2 separate regions of the Homo sapiens genome follow, and region 2 is linked to region 1. A link means that fine-mapping ties the variant in region 1 to the expression of a gene that starts in the linked region. Tissue or cell type: whole blood. Region 1 holds a variant in brackets; the other region holds the start of a gene. All regions are shown on one strand. Distances are from middle to middle.

Region 1 (8,106 bases):
AGGCAAACACTACATGTGAGAAAGTAAAGGTTTCATGAAGGATTCCTCATTCTGGGTGAGTAAGAGCAGGATGAAGCCATTAACAGGAAGAACCAAAAGAGAGCTTCTGGGAGAGATTAGCTTTCAGAACATACTGAGTTTCCTCTGATGAAAGGAATCAATGTGACAATGCAGAACTGCAATTCGATAAAGAGCCACTACCTAAACAGCATGTACAAAACCTCCTGGTCACTGGACTTCACAATGTTCTTGGATTTCCTAGTTAATGTCTCCTACACACCCACATCTTCTGACTCTCTTTTATTACCTATAATTTTTGAGTCCACATTTGTCATGTATACAACTTGCTGAAGCAATCACCAACTTTTGAAATGGAAAAGAATTTTAGGAATTAAATAATCTAATGCAGTGGCATGATCATACCTCTGCAGCCTTGAACTCCTGGGCTCAAACAATCCTTCCATCTCAGCCTCCCAAGTAGCTAGGACTACAGGCACGTGCTACCATACCCAGGTAATTAAAAAAAAATTGTTTTGTATAGATGGGGTCTCGCTTTGTCGCCCTGGCAGGTCTCAAACTCCTGGTCTCAAGCAATTCTCCTGCCCTGGCATCCCAAAGAGCTGGGATTATAGGCATGAAATGAGCCACGGCGCCTAGCCTGTGTTCTCTTGTTTTAAACAGAACTTTCTAAAGTTATCTTGCGTACTGTTATTTTCCATATAACAGCTTTATGAAATGCTACAAAAACATTAAGAAACAAATTATCTAATATTTAAGAATATTATCAGCTGCAGAAGAAAATAAATTATAAATCAGGGTGCTTTAAAAATAAAAAAATTATATTTTAGGAAAAAAAATCCAGAATTCATTATCACATCTAAAATGTACTATACAAACACAATAAAAGGACGATAATACAAACTGTTATTGCTATTACTTAATCATTCTAGAACTGAAATACTGGTGTTGACAGTACTTGTAACGGTGTCCTTTACACACAAGATAAAAAGGCACACTGCACAACTTAACAGATGTTTGCTTATTAAGGTACCTCTAAATCCTCAGTCAATATGATACAGGCTTACAGAATAAATTTTCTCTTTAGATCTCTCACTCCAGGAAGTCACTGTAGTTATAAATATCTCTAAAAAACACTATTCATTTTAAAGTCTTAAACAACCAACTAGTATATCAAACTAAAATTTCTACAGAAATAATACTGGAACACAGAACATTTAAACAAAACTTTTACCGATTAAATTGTCAGAAAAGTAGTAAGTGGGGACTTATTTTTACTTCTCACAGCATAGCTTCTAAATAGTTAATACACCTTTCAAGTCATTTCATTCAACCACACAGTTCTAAGATGATTTTTCTCAATTTTTCAGATTCCACATTTTCTTTAAGATTTATGGTCTGCAACCACAGACAGCCATCCTATAAAAAGAGTCACCTATATTTACAAGTTTACAGAAAACATGATTTCTTAAGAAGAAAATACTAAAAAGTTATCTGGAATGATAATCCATCTTTTCTTCTGTTTTTTTTTACTATTTATCCATTCATCTATGGAGAGATTTCTCTCAAACATTTAGTTTATGTCTACTATGTACCATGCAATGAGGTACGAAAGTAGGTTTGAAGTTAACTACTTATCTGCTATGGGTATTATTTCATCTCATCTCCTACAAAGTATGACTTTTTTATTATATTCCCGTAAAGCTCTGACCTATTAGACAGAAAGAGCCTATGATAGAATTATAATCCTAGTATAGATTTCAGGATATTAAAAAAGGATTGATTCAATGGAATAAAACCTTACAAAGATCAGACTTTGATCTAATTAGAAAAAGATGAAAAGGTGATGCGGTATTTATCACATATTTTCTGGAGATTATTTAAATATAGTTAAAAGTTTTAAAAAATACAACAATAGCTGGGCACAATGGCTCATGCCTGTAATCTCAGTGCTTTGGGAGGCTGAGGTGGGGGAGGACTGTTGGAGCCCAGGAGCTCAAGACCAACCTGGCAACATCTCTACAAAAAAAAATTTTTTTTTAATTAGCTAGGTGTGGTATATGTGCCTATAGTCTCAGCTACTTGGGAGGCTGAGGCAGGAGGAAAGCTTGAGTCCGGGAGGTTGAGGGCGCAGTGAGCCCTGATTGTTCCACTGCACTCTGGCCTGGGTGAAATAGCAAGACCTCGTCTCAAACAAAACAAAACAAAACCCAAACACTGAATATTGCAATAAAAGAACTTTAGCCTATAATTCCTGCACTTTGGGAGGCTGAGGCGGATGGATTGCTTGAGTCCAAGGATTTGAGACCAGGCTGGGCAACACAGTAAAACCTCATCTCTATAAAAAAAATAAACTCGGCAAGGTGATGTACCCGTGAGTCTGGGAGGCTAATCTTTTTTGTATTTTTGGTAGAGACGGGGTTTTGCCATGTTGCCCAGGCTGGTCTTCAACTCTTGGCCTCAGGTGATCCTGCCTGCTTCGGCCTCCCAAAGTGCTGGGATTCCAGGCATGAGCCACTGCATCCAGCCTAAAAACCTGTATTTCCAGATATAAAAACTTTAGCTTTGAAATTAATCTTGAATTCATGGAATAAAACAGAAATGCTTTTCAATTAAAGTTTAAAGATGCTGGGTGCAGTAGCTTATGCCTGTAATCCTGGCACTTTGGGAGGCTGAGGTGGGTGGATCACTTGAGGTCAGGAGTTTAAGACCAGCCTGGCCAACATGGTGAAACCCTGTCTCTACTAAAAATACAAAAATTAGCTGAGCATGGTGGTGGGCGCCTGTAATCTCAGCTACTTGGGAGGCTGAGGCAGGAAAATCACATGAACCCGGGAGGCAGAGGTTGCAGTGAGCCGAGACTGTGCTACTGCACTCCATTCTGGGCAACAGAGCGAGACTCCATCTCAAAAAAAAAAAAAAAAAAAAAAAAACCCAAAAATTAAAGAAAACTGTTTATAGCCTACTCAGCTTTTCGAAATATTAAATATCTCAACTTAGATTAAATTATACAAAATAATACAAATGTTTGGCCGGGTGCAGTGGCTCACACCTATAATCCTAGCACTTTGGGAGGCTGAGGCAGGGGGATCGCCTGAGGTCAGGAGTTTGAGACTAGCCTGGCCAACATGCAAAACCCCATCTCTACTAAAAATACAAAAATTAGCTGGATGTGGTGATACATGCCTGTAATCCCAGCTATTCAGGAGGCTGAGGCAGGAGAATCGCTTGAACCCGGGAGGCAGAGGTTGCGCCACTGCACTCCAGCCTAAGTGACAGAGTGAGACTTCGTCATCAAAAAAAAAACCAAAAACCAAAAAACAAAAAAAACCAATCAAACAAAACAAACAAAAAACACATTCGAGGCCGGGCGCGGTGGCTCATGCCTGTAATCCTAGCACTTGGGAGGCTGAGGCAGGCGGATCACCTGAGGTTGGGAGTTCGAGACCAGCCTGACCAACATGGACAAACTCCGTCTCTATTAAAAATACAAAATTAGCCAGGTGTGGTGGCACATGCTTGTGATCCCAGCTACTAGGGAGGCTGAGGCAGGAGAATCGCTTGAACCTGGGAGGCGGAGGTTACGGTGAGCCAAGATTGCACCATTGCACTCCAGCCTGGGCAACAATAGTGAAACTCCATTTCAAAAAACAAAATAAAACAAAACAAAAACACATTTGATTCTACATTATAAAATATTTGGCTAGATTCAGAGCATGTCATAATAGGATTTAATTAAGCTAAAGGCATTGTAGGAGGATTTCCTTGCACAATAATTCCTATGTTAATAAAGGAATAAGAACGATGTCACATAAAACTTAAAAACGTGAAATTGTCACTTGGCTAATAAAAGAAATGCATATTTCCTAAAACTCATGGACCGATATTAGATTATCCTAACAAACTGAGATCAGCATTTGGTAATAAATCTGTCATTTGGAAAACCAAGAAAATTCAAACAAATATTCTGGGAACTGACAAAACCATTTAAAGGGAGAAAAGGAAAATGAAGGTTATAAATTTTGCAACTTATTTTCTCATACTTGGTTTAACAATGTAATAGTTATCATAGACTCAATGACAAAGATGTAAACAAATTCTACAAAAAAAAAAAAAAAATCTCAGCACCTTCAGGGACAAGGTGGTTATATATAGAATTGAAGCAAGACAATTGGTTAGAAAACAAAGGCAGAAATGAGAATACTAAGAGAATACAGTGTTTTTGTCAGGTCTAGAAGTTGAATATCCAGTAAGATGTTACAAGGCTAAAATAACACTGAATTATAACACAACAAAAGGGAGTTAACTGTGGCTCTTTAATTCTGCTTAACTGAAAAGCATATACACAAGGCCAGGAGTGTTGGCTCATGCCTGTAATCCCAGCACATTGCACACTGGGAGGCCAAGGCGGGCAGACCACCTGAGGTCAGGAGTTCGAGACCAGCCTGGTCAACATGGCGAAACTCCGTCTCTACTAAAAATACAAAAACTAGCTGGGCACAGTGGCGTGCGCCTGTAATCCCAGCTACTCAGGAGGCTGAGGCAGGAAAA[T/AT]CACTTGAACTTGGGAGGTAGAGGTTGCAGTGAGCTGAGACTGTGCCATTGCACTCCAGCCTGGGCAACAAGAGTGAAACTCTGTCTCAAAAAAAAGAAAAGAAAAGAAAAGCATATACACAAATAACTAAAACACTTTATACAAAATGAAATTCAAGTAGAATCAATGCAGAATTACTTGGGTGGGGGTGGAAGGGAAGAGTAAAGAGAACAATGCAATTATTTTTTAAAAAAGTAAAACATTAACGAATTATATGATTTTTGACATGAGATCTTTCCTAACTTTATTTCATTTAGAACATAATTTACCTTATATCGGAGTCATTAAATAGCCATCATAATACAGATACGAATAAGAAGGAAATGAGTTTAAGTAAAAATGTTAAGTGTCCTGGATATTCTTCTCATGTTAGACAAAACACAAGACAACAAAAAAAAGGCTAAATATTACATCTTAACAAAGAGTAAAAGTTTCCTAAAATTAATAGACCAAGAACACCTACCACTCCATCAGCAATTTTCTGAGCTCCATGAATTTCATATAGTTGTAGCTGTTTTTCAAACAGTTGGGCAATAGCTCTATGAACAAGTTCATATTGCTCCTATGAAGGAGAAAAATGATTAAAAAACAAAATGAAAACAACATTTTAAAAAAGAAGAAAGCATTTATAAAATAGCAGTTTATAAAGGGAAACAAACAACTATACCTTTGTTTGTACTGCAGAATGCCTTTGTGTTCTCATTTCTTGTATTAAATTAAATACATTAAATTCCTCTGGTATTTTCTAAAACAGAAAATTTAATACATCAACTTTGTGTATCTATTCAGAAAATAGTAAAATCTTCTTCAGCTTTTCACATAAAACTTAAATACCTGCTGGTTTACTGCAAACATTTATTGAACACCACTTAATGCATCTCAGACACTGTGCTTGGCACTGTGGAAACAAAACTGTTCTTGACCCTCAGCATTCAAGATGGGGAGACAGTTATGTCCAGCCAAAGTATGACTGCAGTATACAGGGAATAAAGAGGCTATGGCTAACTGTTGAGTGTGTGCAGCTACAACATAGTTGGATATCAAAAGAAGGTTATCCCATAAAAAGTGAAGGAAATATACATAAGCACAGCAGATTCAATGTATAATCTATGTGGGGAATTGAGAAGTTTGATGTAAACAAAGCCTAAGACTAAAAGAAGGAGAAGGTACTCAAAGGAGGAGAGAAGATAAGGATATTTAGGATCAGACTGTGAACATAATAAAGAGACTGAATTTATTCTATTGGCCAGTATCTCCTGGATTGGCTATATAAGGACCAGCTAAAAGACCTAGGTAAAAATATAGATCCTTTGGCTCCAAGTTGGGGAACTAATTATGAAACGACCTAGACAATTCTTTTGTGTATATGGAATTGCGACTACTGCAATAGGCAATGTTGACATGAGAAGATCTGATATTCACACAATTTTTGTATCAAGGAAGAGGACAGTCTGAAAGAGTGAGAAACTGGCGGAGGTTTACAGAAGCAGAAATATCATAACTGTTATCAACAAGAATATTTTGGAGTGATTAAGATGGAAGGGTTAAAAATGATTTCCAGGTTTGCTGCTTGGAAGTCCTTATATACATCATAAGATTTTTGGGTTTTTTTTTTGTTGTTTTTTTTTTGAGACGGAGTCTCGCTCTGTCGCCCAGGCTGGAGTACGGTGGCGTGATATCCGCTCACTGCAAGCTCCGCCTCCCGGGTTCACGCCATTCTCCTGCCTCAGCCTCCGGAGTAGCTGGGACTACAGGCCCCCGCCACTACGCCTGGCGATTTTTTTTATATTTTTAGTAGAGACAGGGTTTCACCGTGTTAGCCAGGGTGGTCTCAATCTGCTGACCTCGTGATCCGCCCGCCTCGGCTTCCCGAAGTGCTGGGATTACAGGCGTGAGCCACCGCGCCCAGCCAAGATTTTTACATGAAGACTTAACAACTAGGCCGGGTGCAGTGGCTCATGTCTGTAATCCCAGCACTTTGAGAGGCCAAGGCAGGCGGATCACCTGAGGTCAGGAGTTTGAGACCAGCCCGAAACACGGTGAAACCCCATCTCTACTAAAAATACAAAAATTAGCCAGGCATGGTGCCGCGTGCATGTAATCCCAGCTACTCGGGAGACTAAGGCAGGAGAATCGCTTGAACCTGAGAGTCAGAGGTTGCAGTGAGCCGAGATTACACCACTGCCCTCCAGCCTAGGCAACAGAGTGAGACTCCATCTCAAAAAAAAAAAAAAAAGAGAGAGAGAGAACTATGTTCAAAATACACAACTTTTATTTTATTTTATTTTTTGAGACGGAGTCTTGCTCTGTCACCCAGTTTGCAGTGCAATGGCACAATCTCGGCTCACTGCAACCTCTGCCTTCCAGGTTCAAGCAATTCTCCTGCCTCAGCCTGACAAGTAACTGGGATTACAGGCGCCGGCCACCACGCCTGGCTAATTTTTGTATTTTTAGTAGAAATGGGGTTTCACCATGTTGGCCAGGTTGGTCTCAAACTCCTGACCTCAGGTGATCCGCCCACCTCAGCCTTCAAAAGTGCTGGAATTATGGCATAAGCCATGGCACCTATCCAAAATACACAACTTTTAAAATGACCAAATGTTTGTTTTGTTTGCTAGCATTCATTTATGTGTCCCTTCTCATTCCAATTTTAATCTTTGACTTTTATGTTAAAATGTGATCGAATTCCAGTTAAATTTTGTTCACTTAAGCATTTTCATTTGAGAATTAGATGATTATAGTTTTTGAGGAAAAAAATATTTAACCCCAGAGGGCTTTTTAAGGAACTGTTTAACATGTAAATATTTCCTTGCAACAATAAAAAATGGAGAGATGGCAGGGAAAAAAGAGAAATAAGGGGAAGAAGGAAGAAAAAGAAAAAATAAACATTTTATTAATTCTACTCTGTACAAGACAAAGATGAACAATTCATGGAAACTATAAAGCTATGAAGGATTAAAGGCGCCTCTCTAGAAATGAACACATTATGGAACCAGCAAAAGAATCAAATGTATACATAATGAAGAGACTTGTTTTTCAAATCTATAATGAAGGCTGTATCTTATTTATCTCTGTATCATCCACAGTATCAAACACTATTTCTTGGAAAAAGCAGTAGTAGGAACAACAATCACAACAGCAACAGTAATCAACACTAACAATAAACTGAGTACTTACAATTTACCACATAGTTCTGAAGAACTTCACAAAAGTTATTTAATTCTTATGCATTACTACTACTATGACCCCTATTTTCTGATAAAGAAATAGAGGCACTATGGGATTAGTATTTTGACCAAGATCCCACAGCTAGTAAATGAGAAAGCCAGAATTATAATCTGGGCAATTTGGCTCGAGTCAGCATTCATAGACTACAATACTATAATGTCTCCAGCAGGCATAAATACATACTGAGTGAAATACACTTATACCTAGAGTAAACATAAAAGGCAATGGGCCAGGCACCGTAGCTCACGCCTACAATCCCGGCACTTTGG
Region 2 (8,106 bases), 74 kb after region 1:
GCTGGAGAAGGTGAGATGGGGGAATGACGCTGGAGTGGACCAGCATGTCTATTTTCTTAACACCTCCCTACTTTCTCCATGTCTCTAGGAGTTACAATGCAGACTGTCCAGAATTGCTATTATCGGTCTGTAGAATAAAATCTAAGTATAGCATAGATGTAAGATCCTTCACAAAAAGACCTCTACCTAACTTTCCCAGCATTACCTTTATCATTTACCATGTATTAGCTCACTGGTTCTCAAAGTATGGTCCAGGACCACCTCCCCAACCCCCAGCCATCAGAGGGAGTCTGTGTGGAGTTAAAACCTAGGTCTGTCAAACATGAATGTGCACCACCCTACTTTATACATTTATCTCTCATTTTGTAAATATTAAAAGTAGAGATAATTGAGATCAAATTCTGGATCAGCCACAAATTAGCTATTTGCTAATTTATTAGCAAAATTAGCATGTTTTCAACATGCAAATAACCATCTAGGCAACATAGTTCTGCACAGTCTGGGTACCTTAGCTGTCTCCTCTTTAACAGTATGGGGCACAACCAAGGCCAGGAATAGACACTCATAGAATAGTAATGACAGGTGGAAAATTTCTATCCTCAATAGTAATCAAGAAATTCAAGTTAAAACAAGATATCAGTTTTCAACCATCAAATAAAGATCAAGAAAATTATAATATGAACACTCATACATTATGACAGTTGTATAAACTGACAAAACTTTTTCAAGTTTATGAACATGTATTAAATGTTTATATACGTCTACCTAGTACTCCTGGGAAGCTATCTTATGCAACAGTGAAAAATGTCAGTTTCAGCAAAAATGTTAATCACAGAATTACTATATGTAACAGCAGAAAGTAGAATGACCTAAATACTCAAACATAAAGAAACAAAATTAAGATATAAGATAGTTACCAAGTAGTAGGCCGGCTACGGTGGCTCACACCTGTAACCCCAGCACTTTGAGGCTGAGGCAGGTGGATTGCTTGAGCCCAGGAGTTTGAGACCAGCCTGGGCAACATGGGGAAACCCTGTCTCTACAAAAAATACAAAAATCAGCAGGGCTTGGTGGGGTGGGCCCATAGCCCCAGCTACTCTGGAGGCTGAAGTGGGAGGATCACCTGAGCCCAGGGAGACCGACGCTGCCGTGAGCCAGGATCGCAACCATGCACTCCAGCCTGGGTGACAGAGTGAGACCCTGTCTCAAAAACAGAACAAAACAACAAAACAAAACAAAACCAAAAAATATTAACAGAGGTAGCCTTTAAATGACAGGACTGTAGGACAGCTGGATAGAGCGAAAAGAGCATCATCACCAGTCAGGCAAGTGGAGTGTTCATTTGAACTGTGGTCTAAGTGTAAGGCATTATTATTATTCTATTAATTTCCAAATTTGGAATAAACATTATTTTATGATGGAACAGTTATATCAGCTACATTATCTCTAAGGCTCAGTCATAAAATGTTAAGAATTTAAAATGCATTTTTAATCGACATCAGAATTTAAAAATAATAGAATCTATAAGCTAATCTTTTTTTTCTCTTTCCATGCCAGGAGAACATAGTTCCTCTCCAGCCTTCCAGTCAGGGGAAAAAGCAGCACCAACTACCGGCTGTCTTAATTACAGCTATTGCTTATCAAGTCAGGAAATTAAAAAAAAAAAAAGCCCTATAAAAGAATAGCCTTAGTCATCAAATCTCTAATGTAGAATCACCTAGCTATACCTAGGTATCATGGAAGAAAAAGGAAACTCATTTACTCTTGGAGAAATGAACTCTCGGTGGCTCATGCCTGTAATCCTAGCACTTTGGGAGGCTGAGGCGGGCAGATCACAAAGTCAGTCAGATGAAAGTTCAAGACCAGTCTGGCCAATATGGTGAAATCCCATCTCTACTAAAAATACAAAAATTAGCCAGGCGTGGTGGCATGCGCCTGTAATCTCAGCTACTCAGGAGGCTGAGGCAGGAGAATCGCTTGAACCTGGGAGGTGGAGGATGCAGTGAGCCGAGATTGAGCCACTGCACTCCAACCTGGGCGACACAGCGAGGTGTTACATCTCAAAAAAAAAAGAAAGAAAGAAAGAAAGAAAGAAATGAACTCTCCAATAGGAATCCCTGACTCATCCCCAAAGCATGAACCCTAAGGCCACTTCTCCAGTACAGGAGTTCAGAGGCTGGGCAACCTGTCCTGATGGCCCGCATCACCAAACAATGCTCCTTCCTGACGGTATATGCCTAGGGATAACAAGGTGACTAGCATGCAAACAAGAAATGACCAGGGACCACACCATCTCTTCTTCCATAACCAAAGTAAGACGGTAAAAAACTAGTTTTAGGCCGGGCATGGTGGCTCACGCCTGTAATCCCAGCACTTTGGGAGGCCAAAGCAGATGGATCACTTGAGATGAGGAGTTCGAGAGCAGCCTGCAAATATGGCGAAACCCCATCTCTACTAAAAATACAAAATTAGCAGGGCGTGGTAGCTTGCGCCTGTAGTCCCGGCTACTTCGGACAAAAATTAGCCGGGCGTGGTGGCACGTGCCTATAATCTCAGCTACTCAGGAGGCTGAGGCAGGAGCATCGCTTGAATCTGGGAGGCAGAGGTTGCAGTGAGCTGAGATTGCGCCGCTGCACTCCAGCCGGGGCGACAGAGCGTAGAGCGAGACTCCGTCTCAAAAAAAAAACCAACCAACCAACCAACCAAACAACAAAACCCAAAAAAACTAGTTTTAAACATCTTAAATATTCAAAGTATTTTCTTCTACTTTTGCTAGAAAGTAGTAAAAAAGGGACTCCATCCAATTGCTGTAAATGACACCATTCAAAAGATACCAAGACAATAAAAACTCTCAATAGTAAAAAGGGAAAATGCCGTTTTCCTTAACCCTTTCAGATCAAAAAGTAATTTTTCAAAAATACATAGGCTAAATATCAAGAGCAAATGTTTAAATATAAGCAATATTTTTATTTTTAATAAGGAATAAGTTAGATTATTTAACTTATATTTTCAATCTTCAAAAGATACTGAGAAAACTTTACTTCCGTCCTCTATTATTGGTCTGGGGAGGCGGGAATCACAAAGCTCAACGATGCTAGTATAATACTGTGTATGGTCAAGGGCCTATTTTATAAGCTGTTAAAAATTTAACGCTAAAGCTTTACTAGACCAGTCTCTTTAAAACGTGAAAAAGTATTCACTACTAAGTCATATCACCTCCACCATAAAAACTACTGTACTTTTTAAACAAAAAATAAAAACTAGCCAATGTTTGCTGCCCATTCATTTTACAGGCATTAACTGTGTATCCTTCTCATAATCAGATTTCAGAATTAAGTGATTATTCTTCGAGGTGTACCTTACCCAAGATAAAAATTTTCCCCAGCTTATTTCCCATTCCCAACCCCCGCCAAGACTAAGGAGCAACCACTTCCCAAAGTCCCACTTCCTTTTTCATTCCCCAGACCTACAGGGTTTCCAACGCCCCAGTCTTGCGCAATATCCGTAGGAGCAGCAGCCGCAACCACCGCCTCCTAAGCCGGGAAACAACCCTAGAGGGAACATTGTCCAGCAGAAAAATAAAAAGGGCGGGGGTTGGGGGGGTGGGTAACGTAGGAAGTCGACTTCTGGTCTCACGCCTTCGGATCTGACCCCCTCACAGTGTGCTAAAGCAATAGTGTATCTAGAGCAATTTCATGAACAAGACTTTTAACCTTCACCTCCTCTCAAGACTGCCTGCACAAGCAGAGGGCGGAAAGTAGGGGGTGGCGGAGGCGGGGGGGCGCTGGGAAGGTTATCTCCCAGTTCAGGGCTTCGGCCCGTAGCGTCGCCTCCGCCCCACCAGGACTATTGTTCCCAAGTTCCCCACCCCCACCCCGGATAGGAAGTGATAGTCACATCCCCTCCGCCTTCGGCAATATCCCCTGGGGAGTCCGAAGTCGGCTGGCTTCCTTCAGGATAATTCCCCCACCCACACTTATCCCCTGAACCTATAGTCACACGGACCCCAAGACCACCTCAAACCTGGGCCTCAGGAGAGGAGAAGCGGGACGCGGGTAAATGGAAATTAGGTAAACCCATGAGATTCCTTATGGGCAATCCTTTCCCAAGCGTTGGAGATCATGACTGCGACCCCAGAAACGGCCTAAGTCCTACCCTGCCCGCTTTGAGACCAGCTAGAGCAAAGGGATCCCAGGAGTTAGTGCCAACCTCAATACCCCCGTTCCTCTGTCAGCCACGATCTGCACTCCTCCCGGTCACAGCCAGATACCTTGCCTCGACCCTCCTGGGAGGAGCGAACTGCGCGGGGAGGTGTGGAAACGCGAGCCCCCCCCCCCGGCCTGCACCTCACTTGCCTACGGCTCCCGGCCCGGTAAACAATAGGTGGTCGCGAGCCACGGTGCAGGCTGCGGGCTCGGCCGCGCGGCCGCTCCCTTCGCGTCCCGGGAACCCGCGCGGGGGTCGCGAACATGGGAGAAGAAAGGAGGCCACGGGGGGAGGCGCTCTCGCCTCCCGCTGGCCTCCGAGACCACCCGGCTCACCCGGCTGGTGCGCGCCCCCTCCGCCCCTCTCCTCACAGAGGTACACAAAGCACTGGCGGCCCGGCCGGGAGAGGCGGCGATGGGCTCCGGCGCCGGCAAGAAAACGCGACAGCGAGGGGAGAGACTCACCATGAAGTCCCGGGCGAAGTTGTCCTCCCCATTGTGGTCAGGACTCTTCATGGCCTGGACCCTCTGGATGAATTTCCTCAGGATCTCCACTTGCTCCATCCTCCCGCGTCCCCCCGGCTGCGGTCGCTGGCCCCCCCGCCGCCCGCCCGCCCGGCACAGAGCCCGCTCCGTCTTCCCCAGCTCGTTCCCCCAGCACGTCCCTCCCTCCCGACCCCGCCAAGCCCCGCGGCTCCCTCCTCCTCCCCACCGCCCTAGGCGGCGGCTGCGGCGGCACCGGCTGGGCTCCCGACACCACAACTTCCAGGAGCAGCCGCCGCTCTCCCACAGTACCAGGCGAGCCGCTGCGCTAGCGCCAACCCCAACCCCCAGCTTGCTCCATCCTCCTTCCCCGCCCTCCTCCTCCGTCGGAGACGCCGCCGCCGCCGCCGCCGCCGCCGCCGCCTCAGGAACACAGCTAGCTCTCCGCTCGCCCTGCCCCCCCTTCCCGGTTCCTCCTCCCCCCCACCCCCCGCCAGCAGCCGCAGCCGCAGCCGCAGCCGCCTCTCCCCACGGGCGCGTCCCCGCCGCCACCCAGATGCGCGGCCTCGCGCTGCGGCTCCGCCCCAAGCGCTGCGCCCGCAGATGCATCCCCGCCCGCCTCCCGGCCACGCCCCCAAGCCCGCCCCGCCGGCCCCAGCCCCGCTTGGAGTGGCTGGAAGGCACTTCAGCGGGCGGCCTGGAGACCTGACTCCATTTCCGGGGCGTGGCCCCGCCCGGGGTGCTCAGAGGTCGGAGTATCGCTGGGAGGAGAGTTGGTTCATTTGGAGGAGGGAATGCGACTCTGAGCGGGCCAAGCCCTAGTGGGTCAGAGTAGGATTCTGATGGAATTTGCGGTCTCACCGCCTACTAGGGAGGAAAAGCAGTTTTCAGGAGTCCCGCACCGCCGCCAGCCGTGGGCTGGGACTACAAGTCACGGTCTGTGGAGTCCAGGAGTGGGGGCGGGCGGGAGGCAGGCTGGGAGCTGTAGTAGTGTCACCGCCACGTTCGCAGCAGGTAGATGCTCATCTTGCTAACGGATTGGTGAGAGTGGACAGCAATTAGGCTTTGGCACCTTGGAGCGTGGCTCCAGCTAAGGGAAGCGAAACGCTTCCTGGGTGAGAGGACTTTTATTCTTTGCTCATCCTCTTAAACCTGGCGAGTGAGCGCCTGAGGTTCGGAGTGCCTTCTTCACAGACGACGCGAATGTGGGGTCTTCGTGTTTGCCGAACTGAAGGGAATTTGCCTTCCTGCCTTTAGGTTCGCAGCAGTTCATAACTGAATAAGAGACTTTCCTCCATAGAATGGACTTTATAAATCTATTAATTTTTTTTTTTTTTTTTTTTTAGAGCTAAGGTCTTGCTCTATCTCCCATGCCAAAGTGCAGTGCTATGATCACGGCTCGCTGCAGCCTTGAACTCCTGGGCTCAAGGCATCCTCCTGCCTCACTACGTCACCAAGCCCAGCTAATACATTTTAAAAATTTATTATTTATTTATTTATTTATTTTTGGTAGAGAAGGGGGTCTCACCAGGTTGCCCAGGCTGATCTCGAATTCCTGTGCACTAGGGATCCTCAGCTTCCGAAAGTGTTGGGATTTTAGGCGTGAGCCACCGCGCCTAGCCTATAAATCTTTATTCATCTTTGTAAACTTCTATCAGAGAATATATTCTGGTCTAACTCATCATTTTACAAATAAAGCGACTTCCTGACATCCCCCAGCGTATTCTTAGCAGAGCCGTAACTAGAAGTTATTTTACTTTCACAACAGTGGCCTCTCACAATGTGACAGAACTGAAGGATTTGATCCATGAACTGACTTTCGTCATTTATACCCACAAACCTTTTTTTACAGAGCAGATTGGTCAGCGAATTTGGTTATAATAGGAAATATCAGTGGTAGAATACTTTCTCAGATGAAAGTTAGGAGCACTATGGAATTTAGTGAAAAACTCATTGAAGAAAATAGGTGTAGGCCGGGCGCGGTGGCTCACGCCTGTAATCCCAGCACTTTGGGAGGCCGAGATGGGAGGATCACCTGAACCCGGGAGGCGGAGGTTGCAGTGAGCTGTGATCACACCATTGCACCCCAACCTGGGCGACGGGAGTGAGGCCCTGTCTCAAAAAAAAAAAAAAGAAAAGAAAATAGGTGTAACAGGATATAGTTTATTTACTTCTTCAAAAAAAGGAAAATATTTCTGTTAAAATAATCCAACTAATACATCCACTCCAGAAATATGCACTTCAGACCAGGTGCAGTGGCTCACACCTGTAATCCTAGCACTTCGGGAGGCCGAGTTGGGTGGATCACTTGAGGTCAGGAGTTCGAGACCAACCTGGCCGATATGGTGAAACCCTGTCTCTGCTAAAAATACAAAGCCGGGTGTGGTGGTGCACGCCTGTAGTCCCAGGTACTCCAGAGGCTGAGGCAGAAGAATCGCCTGAACCTGAGAGGCGGAGATTGCAGTGAGCCGAGGTCGTGCCACCACACTCCAGCCTGGGTGAAAGAGCGAGAGTCTGTCTCAAAAAATAAAAATAAAAAGGCCAGGCGCGATGGTTCACACCTGTAATCCCAACCCTTTGGGAGGCCGAGGCGGGCGGATCACCTGAGGTCAGGAGTTCAAGACCAGCCTGGCCAATATGGTGAAACCAACCCCGTCTTTACTAAAAATACAAAAAATTAGCCGGGCGTGGTGACGCATGCCTGTAATCCCAGCTAGTCAGGAGGCTGAGGCAGGAGAATTGCTTGAACCCAGGAGGCGGAGGTTGCATTGAGCGAGATCACGCCATTGCACTCCAGCCTGGGCAACAAGAGCGAAACTCTGTCTCTAAAAAAAAAAAAGAGCCTCCCTGCCTGATTCTCCTGCCTCCGCCTGCGGAGTGCCTGCAATTGCAGGCGCGCGCCGCCACGCCTGACTGGTTTTCGTATTTTTTTGGTGGAAACGGGGTTTCGCTGTGTTGGCCGGGCTGGTCTCCAGCTCCTAACCGCGAGTGATCCGCCAGCCTCGGCCTCCCGAGGTGCCGGGATTGCAGACGGAGTCTGGTTCACTCAGTGCTCAATGGTGCCCAGGCTGGAGTGCAGTGGCGTGATCTCGGCTCGCTACAACCTCCACCTTCCAGCCGCCTGCCTTGGCCTCCCAAAGTGCCGAGATTGCAGCCTCTGCCCGGCCGCCACCCCGTCTGGGAAGTGAGGAGCGTCTCTGCCTGGCCGCCATCACATCTAGGAAGTGAGGAGCCTCTCTGCCCGGCCGCCATCCCATCTGGGAAGTGAGGAGCGCCTCTTCCGGCCGCCATCACATCTAGGAAGTGAGGAGCGTCTCTGCCCGGCCGCCCATCGTCTGGGATGTGGGGAGCGCCTCTGCCCCGCCGCCCCGTCTGGGATGTGAGGAGCGCCCCTGCCCGGCTGCCACCCCGTCTGGGA

Evidence for each region. PIP is the estimated chance that this variant, and not a neighbour inherited with it, causes the effect.
Region 2: it holds the start of PTPN12, and the variant in region 1 is fine-mapped to the expression of PTPN12 in whole blood (INTERVAL, PIP 0.96).

Annotation. Positions count from the first base shown.
Region 1 is chr7:77,608,013-77,616,118 of GRCh38, reverse strand. It overlaps PTPN12 (protein tyrosine phosphatase non-receptor type 12), which reads right to left. Exons shown (of 18, transcript NM_002835.4): 10 at 5,277-5,354; 11 at 5,073-5,171. Among named protein-coding and RNA genes, the nearest start is that of PTPN12, 75 kb to the right of the region's middle. The variant T/AT (reference allele first, on the strand shown) is at 4,570.
Region 2 is chr7:77,534,210-77,542,315 of GRCh38, reverse strand. It overlaps PTPN12 (protein tyrosine phosphatase non-receptor type 12), which reads right to left and starts at 5,021. Exons shown (of 18, transcript NM_002835.4): 1 at 4,671-5,021. The coding sequence starts at 4,769. LOC124901681 (a long non-coding RNA gene) reads left to right here and starts at 5,367. Exons shown (of 3, transcript XR_007060395.1): 1 at 5,367-5,945; 2 at 6,035-8,106. RefSeq lists enhancers at 1,767-2,348, 5,502-5,721, 5,892-5,941 and silencers at 4,482-4,531, 4,672-4,881, 5,132-5,431.